Regions from separate parts of the Homo sapiens genome. Here all the other regions are reported to be linked to region 2. The links are microRNA targets in miRTarBase. Many come from high-throughput screens and were not tested one by one. Region 2 holds a microRNA gene; each other region holds the end of a gene's coding sequence.
What was found. The annotated mature microRNA hsa-miR-1203 reads CCCGGAGCCAGGAUGCAGCUC and lies in region 2 at 2,178-2,198, opposite strand. An mRNA with a match to its seed (bases 2 to 7 or 8) in the 3' UTR can be bound and repressed. Matches are read on the target gene's strand: a 7mer-m8 pairs with bases 2 to 8, a 7mer-A1 pairs with bases 2 to 7 and ends in A, and an 8mer does both.

Region 1: the mRNA of TMEM127 is a reported target of hsa-miR-1203. Seed matches in the 3' UTR shown: 7mer-m8 at 2,260-2,266.
Region 3: miRTarBase lists POLR3F as a target of hsa-miR-1203. Seed matches in the 3' UTR shown: 7mer-A1 at 2,567-2,573.

What each region holds. Positions count from the first base shown.
Region 1 is chr2:96,251,045-96,254,044 of GRCh38, forward strand. TMEM127 (transmembrane protein 127) reads right to left here. Exons shown (of 4, transcript NM_017849.4): 4 at 1-3,000. The coding sequence ends at 2,764. Among named protein-coding and RNA genes, the nearest start is that of TMEM127, 13 kb to the right of the region's middle.
Region 2 is chr17:48,154,309-48,158,755 of GRCh38, forward strand. MIR1203 (microRNA 1203) reads right to left here and starts at 2,203; the gene lies at 2,119-2,203. The region is part of intron 11 of SKAP1 (src kinase associated phosphoprotein 1); the gene reads right to left.
Region 3 is chr20:18,483,381-18,486,380 of GRCh38, reverse strand. It overlaps POLR3F (RNA polymerase III subunit F), which reads right to left. Exons shown (of 9, transcript NM_006466.4): 9 at 1,735-2,900. The coding sequence ends at 2,823. It also overlaps the pseudogene RPL21P3. Among named protein-coding and RNA genes, the nearest start is that of RBBP9, 12 kb to the left of the region's middle.

The sequences.
Region 1 (3,000 bases), not on the chromosome of region 2:
GGATGCAGCCTGAAGAGCTCAGGGTTTGAAGGTTGGGCCTTGGGCGGGAGTCAGCTACTATTTCTAGCTGTTCTAGAAAGACCTAGAAACTTCCTGTGTGAAAACAGGATTAGGAAGCTCTGGGGGTGAAAATGCCATGCACGGAGCTGGCCCATGCCAAGTCCCTTCTAACTATTTTAAATTACATCTTTGGCCAGGCACGGTGGTTCATGCCTATAATCCCAGCACTTTGGGAGGCCAAGGTGGGTGGATAACCTGAGGTTAGGAGTTCCAGACCAGCCTGGCCAACATGGTGAAACCCTGTCTCTACTAAAAATACAAAAAAATTATCTGGGCATAGTGGCGCATGCCTGTAATCCCAGCTACTCAGGAGGCTGAGGCAGGATAATCGCTTGAACCCAGGAGGCAGAGGTTGCAGTGAGCTGAGATCATGCCACGTTACACTCCAGCCCGGGTGACAGAGCGAGACTCTTGTCTCAAAAACAAGAAAAAGAAAAAAAAATACAGCCTCATCAACATCTCCTGCTTCTCTGAGACAAAGGGAACAAACCAAATCAGGAAAATCGTGACAGAAAAATGACAGGCAGCCATTGTCATTTCCATTCTTATTCGTGGTTTCTGGTTTTTTTGGTTTTGTTTTCCCTTTTAATTTTTTTCTAGAAAAAAAAACACAACCCGGGGAATTTATATGACAAACTATCAGTGTCAGGATGGCAGAGGGAAAGAGAAAGAAGAGGAAGGCCAAAGACATGGGGAGTGAATAAAAAGTGGGTTCCGGATCGTGCGGAACAGTCCACAGGGTCATTTACAGGTCCTCAGGAGATGACCAGTCCCTTTGGCATGCAGGTCCAGTGCCTGGTCTTCTGGTCTGCCTGCTCAGACACCCAAGGGCAGAGAGAGCTGGCCACAAGTAAACCTGCCAATGACAAACTCAGGACTTAACAGAAAGACTTAGTTCAGTTCCTTGGCTTTGTGCTCAGGCATCACATAGCAGGCAGCCTGCAGCCTTTCTTGCCTGAGAGAAGAGTCCAGAAGAGCAGGAGAGTCACCTTTGAACACACTCTGGCATCACAGCAGTGAACTGCAAGCAGCCACTGGCTCGTGTGCAGATGTGGCCCTCACCACCCATGCAGGCATCTGTCCGGACATCCCCAGTCAATCTGGCCAAAGGATGGGACATGACAGTCCCTTTCTAGCCACAGCTTCATAGTGTTGTCCATTCTCCAGTCTTGCTCAAACTATCTATCACCTTAAAGGTTGGAAGAGATTGGAATCCATTTCCTTTTCAGCTCAGCAGGGGACACTGATTCCCAAGAAGCAAGTAACTTAACAAGGACAGGTTGGCCATCTGGATCTACACTGAAGGTCTTTCAAGTTTCATCCACTTTATGCCCAGATCTCAGGGCAGAAAATTCAGCCAGACCCAGAGCAAACAAGGTGACCAGAGTGATGGCTGAGCAAGAAAGTCCCAGCAGCACACTGCAAGACCAGAGTACATTCAAGAGGGGAGAGGGCACGTGGCAAGCTGGAGTCCCGAGTCAGAGTCTAGGGCAGCACTGGGTCTGAAGGACACAGCCCGGCCTGCTGGGCTGACAGTGTGGGTCTGATGCCTCACATGATGTGGCCCCACTGGTTGTATTCCTATGTGGAGGGTGGTGGGTTCCTGCCCTGTTGTGGCCCCTGTTCCTAAACTGAGGCCAGGTTCCATCTCAGTGCTGCAGTCCTGAGGAGCACCACGCTGGCCCGCCAGCCAGGCCACAGTCCTCAGCCCCTCTGGGTTCCACGAGAAGGCCCCAGGGAGTCACCGTCACTGAGAGGGAAGGGGCCAGGGAAGGGAGGCTGCATTCTACTGGGAGAGACTCGGGGAGGGACTACCATGGGCTTGGAAGGAGCTACAGCCCCAAATATTGCAGAGCCAAAAGGAATGGGATACATGTCTAAAAAGTGACAACAGTCTTGTCCCTATTTTAAAAACAGAATATTGTTGCTGTTGCCTGGTTTCATTTTTTTCCTTTTAAAACCACTCATATTTAAAAGGTGAAGGGCTGGGAGATGTAGTCCCCTTCACTCTGGTCCTTGATAGGCACCAGGGGGCCTCAGTCTCACGCTGGCTCCTGCTCTCCTTGCCTGGGCTCCAGCCACATGAAGCAAGGGCAGAGAGGGTTGCAACTGCTCTGCCTTCCCAACAGCGATTCCCTCTCCCCATAAAACCAGGGCACACGTGAGGAGAAGTCCAAAGAGTAAAGTGCACAGAACTCCCCGGAGCAGGTGGCCTGGGGGCGGGTCACTCCGAGAAGGAAGGGGTCTGGGGGGCGTCAGCCCAGAGCTACAGCTGTGGAGCAAACACTGATCCCTGTGAAGTGAGCCTCCAGGGCACAGTCCCCTTTCCCTTGGGCCCTTTGACACTTGTTTTTGGGACTGTCCGCTCTCAGCAGCTCTCCAAGGAAAGTCTCGGTCCCAAAGATATCGCCCATGCTGGAGGAAACTTGGATGACCTTCCCTGGCTGGTAATGACTCGTGAATGTGAAGGGGGCAGGATGTGGCAGGAGGGAAAGAGTACATTATAGAAAACCAGTGGACCTCCGGTTCTGAGAGCAGGGATACTTGGATGACCCTAAAGGCAGAGTCTCTCCTGGGGAAGGTTTGGAGAAGATGGTCAGGATCCTACCAGTGAGGCCTGCTGGGGAAAGGAGCTCCTCTGGGTGCGAGAGGAGCTGCAGAGTTGAGGGAGGGGCTGCCGAGGAAGAGAGCCCAGGGCTGGCATTAGGGTGTGTAAGCAGGGGGTGGCTGGAACTGGTTGATGACCTCATATTCCGCCGGGTAGGGCTCGTTCTCTTCCATCTCTGAGAGCAGCTCCAGCGCCTGCTCCTCTTCCTCTGTGGGGTAGTGGCGCAGGAGGTTGGCTGCCGTGGCCAGGATTGAGGCTCCACCAGCTCCTGCCACCAGGTAGAAGCTAACGGCGAAGGTGACATAGACCTGGGATCCATGGTACTTCTTATG
Region 2 (4,447 bases):
CATCTGACAGCATCACGTGTTCCACGCTAAACTTGACTTTGTCTGTATGGCTCCCTGTTTCCACATCAATTCCATCAGCAAGGAAGATGACCCAGACCCTGGTGTGTCTGGGCCATGAGAATACCTTCCCACCCCAGCTAAGCCACCGTGTAAGTATAAATCTTATGCGTACCCAACTTGTTGCTCCAAGGCTGCTTTCCATGGAAATAAGGCACTGGACAATTCCTTGGAAGAGCCTCAGACCAATTTATGAGGCACACAACCCAAGCCCAAGAGATGTACACTGGCTCAGTTTACCTTAAATGGAAGATCTCACCCAGTGGCCTCTTCTCCTTCCTAGTCAATTGAAAAAGAGCTTCTCTTTCCCTCTTTAATTTGTCCTTATCTTCTGAACAGCTCATGTTACCACCATAAATAACTTATGGAACAGGATGCTTTTAAAAAAAATGGGCGTTTAAGTCTTATCTTGGCTGGGCGTGGTGGCTCACACCTGTAATCCCAGCACTTTGGGAGGCCAAGGCAGGCAGATCACTCGAGGCCAGGAGTTCAAGACCAGCCTGGCCAACATGGTGAAACCCCATCTCTACTAAAAATACAAAAAATTAGCCAGGTGTGGTGGCTTGAGCCTGTAATCCCAGCTACTAGGGAGGTTGAGGCAGGAGAACCGCTCGAACTCAGGAGGCAGAGGTTGCAGTGAGCCAAGATTGTGCCACTGTACTCCAGTCTCGCAGTCTGGGTGACAGAGCAAGACTCTGTCTCAAAAAAAAAAAAAAGTTATCTTGAATAGTGGAACAAGCATGATGATGATGATGATGATGATGATTTTTATTTTTTCTTGAGATGGAGTCTCGCTCTGTCATCCAGACTGGAGTGCAATGGCATGATCTTGGCTCACTGCAACCACTGCCTCCCGGGTTCAAGCGAGTCTCCTGCCTCAGCTTCCCTAGTAGCTGGGACTACAGGCACGCGCCACCATGCCTGGCTAATTTTTGTATTTTTAGTAGAGATGGGGTTTTGCCATGTTGGCCAGGCTGGTCTCGAACTCCTGACCTCAGGCAATCCACCTGCCTCGGCCTCCCAAAGTGCTGGGTGAGCCACCACGCCCTGCCAACAAGCATTATTATTATTTGGAAAGAATGTTCCCTAGTGAGAGACACTGGAGCCAAGAAGACAGGGTCACTTTTCTGAAAGCTAGGACTTGTGACTTGTCTTATCCAAATAGAGGCTTCTTACCTCTTTTTCTCCCACTTATAACAAGTGACCATAGGCCAAGCACAGTGGCTCACACCTGTAATTCCAGCACTTTGGAAGGCCGAGGCAGATGGATCACCTGAGGCCAGGAGTTCGAGACCAGCCTGGCCAATATGGCAAAATCCCGTCTCTACTAAAAATACAAAAATTAGCTGGGTGCCGTGGCACTTGCCTGTAGTCCCAGTTACTCAGGAGGCTGAGGCAGGAGAATCGCTTGAACCCGGGAGGCAGAGGTTGCAGTGAGCCGAGACCGCGCCGCTGCATTCCAGGGCAACAGAGAGAGACTCCGTCTCAAGAAAAACAGAAACAAAAACAAGTGACCACAGTGGTGCTGGTCCACAAAAGGGTCTTGCAATCTGCAGATAAAAGGAACTAAGCCAGGGCACCACACTATCACACGGAGGGTGATTCGGCACCTGCCCTGTCATGCCTGGTGCCCAGGCCGAATGGATTTTTGGAGTACACCTGTTGTTGAACCCCTGCCAAGTACTGATGGCCACTAACCCCCAAATCACTTTTCCCCACTGTTGATGTTTGGAATGTCAGACAGGACTGAGCAGCAGCCGGCGTGTATTTCAAACACAGCAGATGGATTTTTATATTAGCTCCTATTTCATGTTCAGGCAGAGCGACCGCCACGCTAAAACCACAGCCTCAATGCTGCCGAGTTTGCTTCTGTGAGATTAATTCTGTGAAATTAATTGGGACAAGATTGAAAAGGAAATTAAAATGCAGCTGAGTGAACAGGCCTTTCAAACACCTTTTCCCTGCTCTATTCAAACTTGAATTCTGCGGTGGTCGCCGGCATCGTGGGAAGTAATTTACGAGTCGCAGGCTCTCAGGAGCCATTGGTTACGTATGAGGAGACCTGCACCAGCGCCACAATCTGGAGCCACTGAAGAGCGCTAAACACCCTGCTGTGGCTTGAGCTGCATCCTGGCTCCGGGGAGGAAGGGAAGTTTAGTCCCTCACCAGAAAAAGCTGTTCAGAAATATCTGAGTCCAAAAGGAACACAGGAACATCCGCTGGATGCACAGATCTGCTTCGTTATTAAAATCTCCCTTTAATATATTTTGAGACCCAAATTGGAACTCAGTGAATTAAGTGGGCATGACACTGCATGGGGCCAAGGAATGCATGGATGTGATGCAGGGAGGTCAGTGGGAGTCCTCCTGCTGACTGTGCCACTGGTTACTGTTTCAGAGTTTGGATGTGTGGCTCTGGTCTCTCCACAAAATGAAGTTTGAATAATCTGTCAGGGACGAAAGCTCTCAGACCAGGAAAGGCATGGTGGATTTTCATGTAGGCCTCTTCACTGGGTATTTTTTTTTGTATCCAAGTGAGCGACTTTTGTGCTGTAGATCATCTCTTTTTCAATAATTTATTGAACTCCTAGTATGTGCCCAACACTGATCCAAAAGTTTATTATTAGTAAAAGGGAAGGAAATATTCCTACTTCCTACATGCCAGGCACTTCCTTACACAAATTCTCTAATGTAAACATCACAACAAATGTATAAATATAAAATTTCCCAATTTTTACAGGTGAGGAAACTGAAGATTATCAGGATTAGGAGATTTTTGCCCAGGGTCATAAATAACCCGTCTGTTACAGGCACTTACTTGCTTCCCTGAGAACAGGACAGGTGATGGGCACTTGGTTATCTCTGGGGAGCATCTTTTTTTTTTTTTTTGAGACGGAGTCTCGCTCTGTTGCCCAAGCTGGAGCGCAGTGGCGTAATCTCGGCTCACTGCAACCTCTGCCTTCCAGGGTCAAGAGATTCTCCTGCCTCAGCCTCCTGAGTAGCTGGGATTACAGGTACCTGCCACCACACCCAGCTAATTTTTGTATTTTAGTAGAGACGGGGTTTCACCATGTTGGCCAGGCTGGTCTTGAACTCCTGACCTCAGGTGATCTGCCCGCCTCGGCCTCCCAAAGTGCTGGGGTTACAGGTGTAAGCCACCGTGCCCGGCCTCTTTTTTTTTTTGAGACAGGGTCTCACTCTGTTGCCCAGGCTGGAGTGCAGTGGCACTATCTCAGCTCACTGCAACCTCCGTCTCCCGGTTCAAGCAATTCTCCTGCCTCAGCCTCCCAAGTAGCTGGGACTACAGGCATGCACCAGCATGCCCAGCTAGCTTTTGTATTTTTAGTGGAGACTGGGTTTCACCATGTTGGCCAGGCTGGTCTCGAACTCCTGACCTCGGGTGATCTGCCAGCCTCGGCCTCCCAAAGTGTTGGGATTACAGGCATGAGCCACCACACCTAGCCACTGGGGAGCATCTTTCTTGCCCAGTCAATCATCTTCTCTGGATAATTTTTTTTTTTGAAAAGGGATAGCCGGACATGGTGGCTCACACCTGTAATCCCAACACTTTAGGAGGCCGAGGTGGGTGGATCACCTGAGGTCAGGAGTTCGAGAACAGCCTGACCAACATGGCAAAACCTTGACTCTAATAAAAATACAAAATTAGCTGGGCATGGGGGTGCAAGCCTGTAATCTCAGCTACTTGGGAGGCTGAGGCAGGAGAATTGCTTGAACCCGGGAGGTGGAGGTTGCAGTGAGCCAAGATCATGCTATCGCACTCCAGCCTGGGCAACGAGAGCAAAACTCTGTCTCAAAAAAAAAAAAAAAAAAAAATGCGATAAATAGCTCTCTTTCTGTGATCATTCTTGCCCAAAGGCAAGACTAAAAGATTCTCCTCTGGGCCGGTTGCGCTGGCTCACGCCTGTAATCCTAACACTTTGGGAGGCCGAGGCGGGCGGATCACGAGGTCAGGAGATCCAGACCATTCTGGCTAACACAGTGAAACCCCGTCTCTATTAAAAATACAAAAAGAAAAAAAAAAAAAGAAAAGAAATTAGCCAGGCATGGTGGCGGGTGCCTGTAGTCCCAGCTACTCGGGAGGCTGAGGCAGGAGAATGGCGTGAACCCAGGAGGCGGAGCTTGCAGTGAGCCGAGATTGTGCCACTGCACTCCAGCCTGGGCCACAGAGCGAGACTCTGTCTCAAAAAAAAAAAAAAAAAGAAAAAAGAAAAAAAAAGATTCTCCTGAGTTTGGTCCTAGGCTTCTAAGATTCAAAGTTGGATCATGCTTGGGTGACTATTAAGAAACAGCAGAGGCCGGGCGCAGTGGCTCACGCCTGTAATCCCAGCATTTTGGGAGGCCGAGGCGGGCGGATCACGAGGTCAGGAGAT
Region 3 (3,000 bases), not on the chromosome of region 2:
TCATTTTTCTTACTACATAAAACTAGTGCCTTTTTGATAGGCCAAGTCCCAGGAAGGACAGACATTGTTCTTACCATTCCAACTCTCACTGAGGGTGGAAGAGAAACCCTCTGTCTGTAGTTTCAGGTTCCCAGATCCTTCATATATATATATATATATATATATATATATATATATATATATATATATATATATATATATTTATATTTACATATATATATATTTATATTTACATATATATTTTTATATATATTTATATATATATTTATATTTATATATATTTATATATATAATTTTTTACAGTCCAGAGATCTTTTATTAACACTTATTATGCCATGAATTCATACGGAATAAGTTCCAGCAGCTCAGGCTCCTTCCCATTGGTTCTCACAAAGTGTGCTTCTCTGGGTGGAGCAGGCTGGCACTTCAGTTGAACCCAGGTAACTTTCTCTCTTTTTTTTTTTTGGAGACGGAATCTCGCTGTCACCAGGCTGGAGTGCAGTGGCGCGATCTCAGCTCACTGCAACCTCCGCCTCCCAGGTTCAAGCGATTCTCCTGCTTCAGCCTCCTGAATAGTTGGGACTACAGGTGTGCGCTACCATGCCCAGATAATTTTTGTATTTTTAGTAGAGACAGGGTTTTACCATATTGGCCAGGATGGTCTCGATCTCTTCACCTCGTGATCTGCCCGCCTGAGCCTCCCAAAGTGCTGGGATTACAGGCGTGAGCCACCATCCCTGGCAAACCCAGGTACCTTTCTCTTTGGCTTCTTTTTTTTTTCTGATCATTTTCCTCATGCATTTCAGGAAGCTATCTCGGCTCTTAGAGTGCTTCATGTGCTCAGTATGCACATTAATGCTCTTGGCAAGAATATTGCCCTTGTTTATTTACAACAATGCCAACAGCATGCTGGGTAACACTGTAGACTCTTCCAGTTTTGCCATGGTAACACTTGTGGGGCATTCCTTTTTGAACAGTACCCATTCCCTTGATGTCTACAATATCACCTTTCTTATAGATTCGCATATACGTGACCAAAGGAACAACTCCATGTTTTCTAAAAGTCCTAGAGAACATATATCGGGTGCCTCTCCTCTTTCCGTTTGTGTTCATCATTTTGGCAAATTACTGGAAGATGGGGGTTCTGGCCAAAAGGCTGTGTATCTTATATATGTATGTATATTCAATACTTGAAATAATTTTTGTTACAAAGAGCTAGTGTCATCAAATGCTAATTCACAGAATGTGGCCTGAATTTTATTTTACTGATACCATTTATCTTAAAATAACTCTTCTGATATCCACTTAGAGCATCTCCAAACTGGTATTAGAACCCAACCCTCAGTACTAGTGGAGCTTGAATTCCTTTCCATGGGTCCCATGTTTTTGGCTTGGATACAGAAACTTCTAAGTGGAGCTACAAAGTGAAAATATGAAGCTGCAATTCTAAAAAGCCGCACAGTCAACTTCTGTGCAACAATACATCAAATAACCTAGTGTTTTCTATGTGGCTGACCATAGGAACTGAAAGTGTTATTAGAACTGAGGACAATTATAATGGCTTTCTGCTTAGACACATCACACCATGATTTAGAACAGAATAAGGAAGGGAAATAAATCTAAAACAGAGTAAGAGAAAAAGAATGTTATCCCCTCTCTCAAAATAAAGTGTGAATGGAGGGCACGGAGTATATTTAGTTTCAGTTAATGCTATAACAGAATACCATAGACTGGTGGTTTATCAACAACAGAAATTTATTTCTCACAATTCTGGAGGCTGAGAAGTCCAAGATCAAGGTGCTTACAGATTTGTTTTCTGGTGAGGACCCACTTCCTGGTTCGTGGATGTTTGTCTTCTCCCTTTCACATGGCAGAAGGGGTGATGGAGCTCTCTGGGTCTCTTTATATAAGGGCACTAATCCCATTCATGAGCGCTGTTACTCTCCTGACCTATCACTTACCAAAAGCCCCACCTCCAAATACCATCACATTGGAAATGAGATTTCAACATTAGAATTCTGGGGGCACACAAACATTCAGTCTACTGCAGACATTAAATAAGAATCTAGGGTAAATTCTAACAAAGAATACATTTGAGTTAAAGAGTGAAACATAAGACTTTAAGAAAGAAGGAACAGTGAAAATATTCTTTAGAATGAAAATGATAGTATTTATGTACTGAAAATATGTCCTTGACAGTAGTCATTGGGTTTGAAGTAAGTATGGTAGCATAATCTCCTAAAAGAACATTTCTGATACAAAAAGGAATTAATATTGTGCGGAAAAGGCATGTTCCACTCTCCCCCAGTCATACCCCAAGTTTGCACTCTTTGCTATTCCTGCCTTTAACCCCTTCTAATTTCTTTTCAATGAAACCACTGAGAAAGTAGGAAACAGAAAATGGTGGTAGTGAACCAGATATAAAAAAAAACTTCCAATGAAGAACTTAATAAATAACTTTAAAAAGAACATTTTTATACTCTAGCCATTATCATAGTACTTGGTAAATACGGGTATGTTGGCATCTTTTTCCTTGACCCATCAGAAGTCTTGAAAGATGTGGTCCTCCGGAGTTTCAAAGTGTTTTATTTATTGAAGAATGAATTTCACTACTAACCTTATTTCTTTCATATTCTACTGGCTATTTTACCAATATAAATTTAGTCTTCATAAATAAAAAAAATATGTTTTCATAGCAGCAAGTCTACGTCCATTATTGTGAAGTTTGCTTTCAAGGAGATTTCGTGTTCCATCATGAATTAAATTATCTGCTCCCTAAGTAACTTCATTTGCAAAATGTCAATAAAGTTCATAGCTCTCTATTAAAATTCGAGCCACTCTGTCATGTAAATACAGTTAGATGGTGAAATCTCACCACCTTCGTGGCAGTCATCAAAAACCTTTAAAAAAGAAAAAAAAATTATATTCAAATTAAAGTTTTAAAATATCTAAGACCCAACCACTTATTTAAAGCAAGATTAAAAACAAAACTTTCAAACT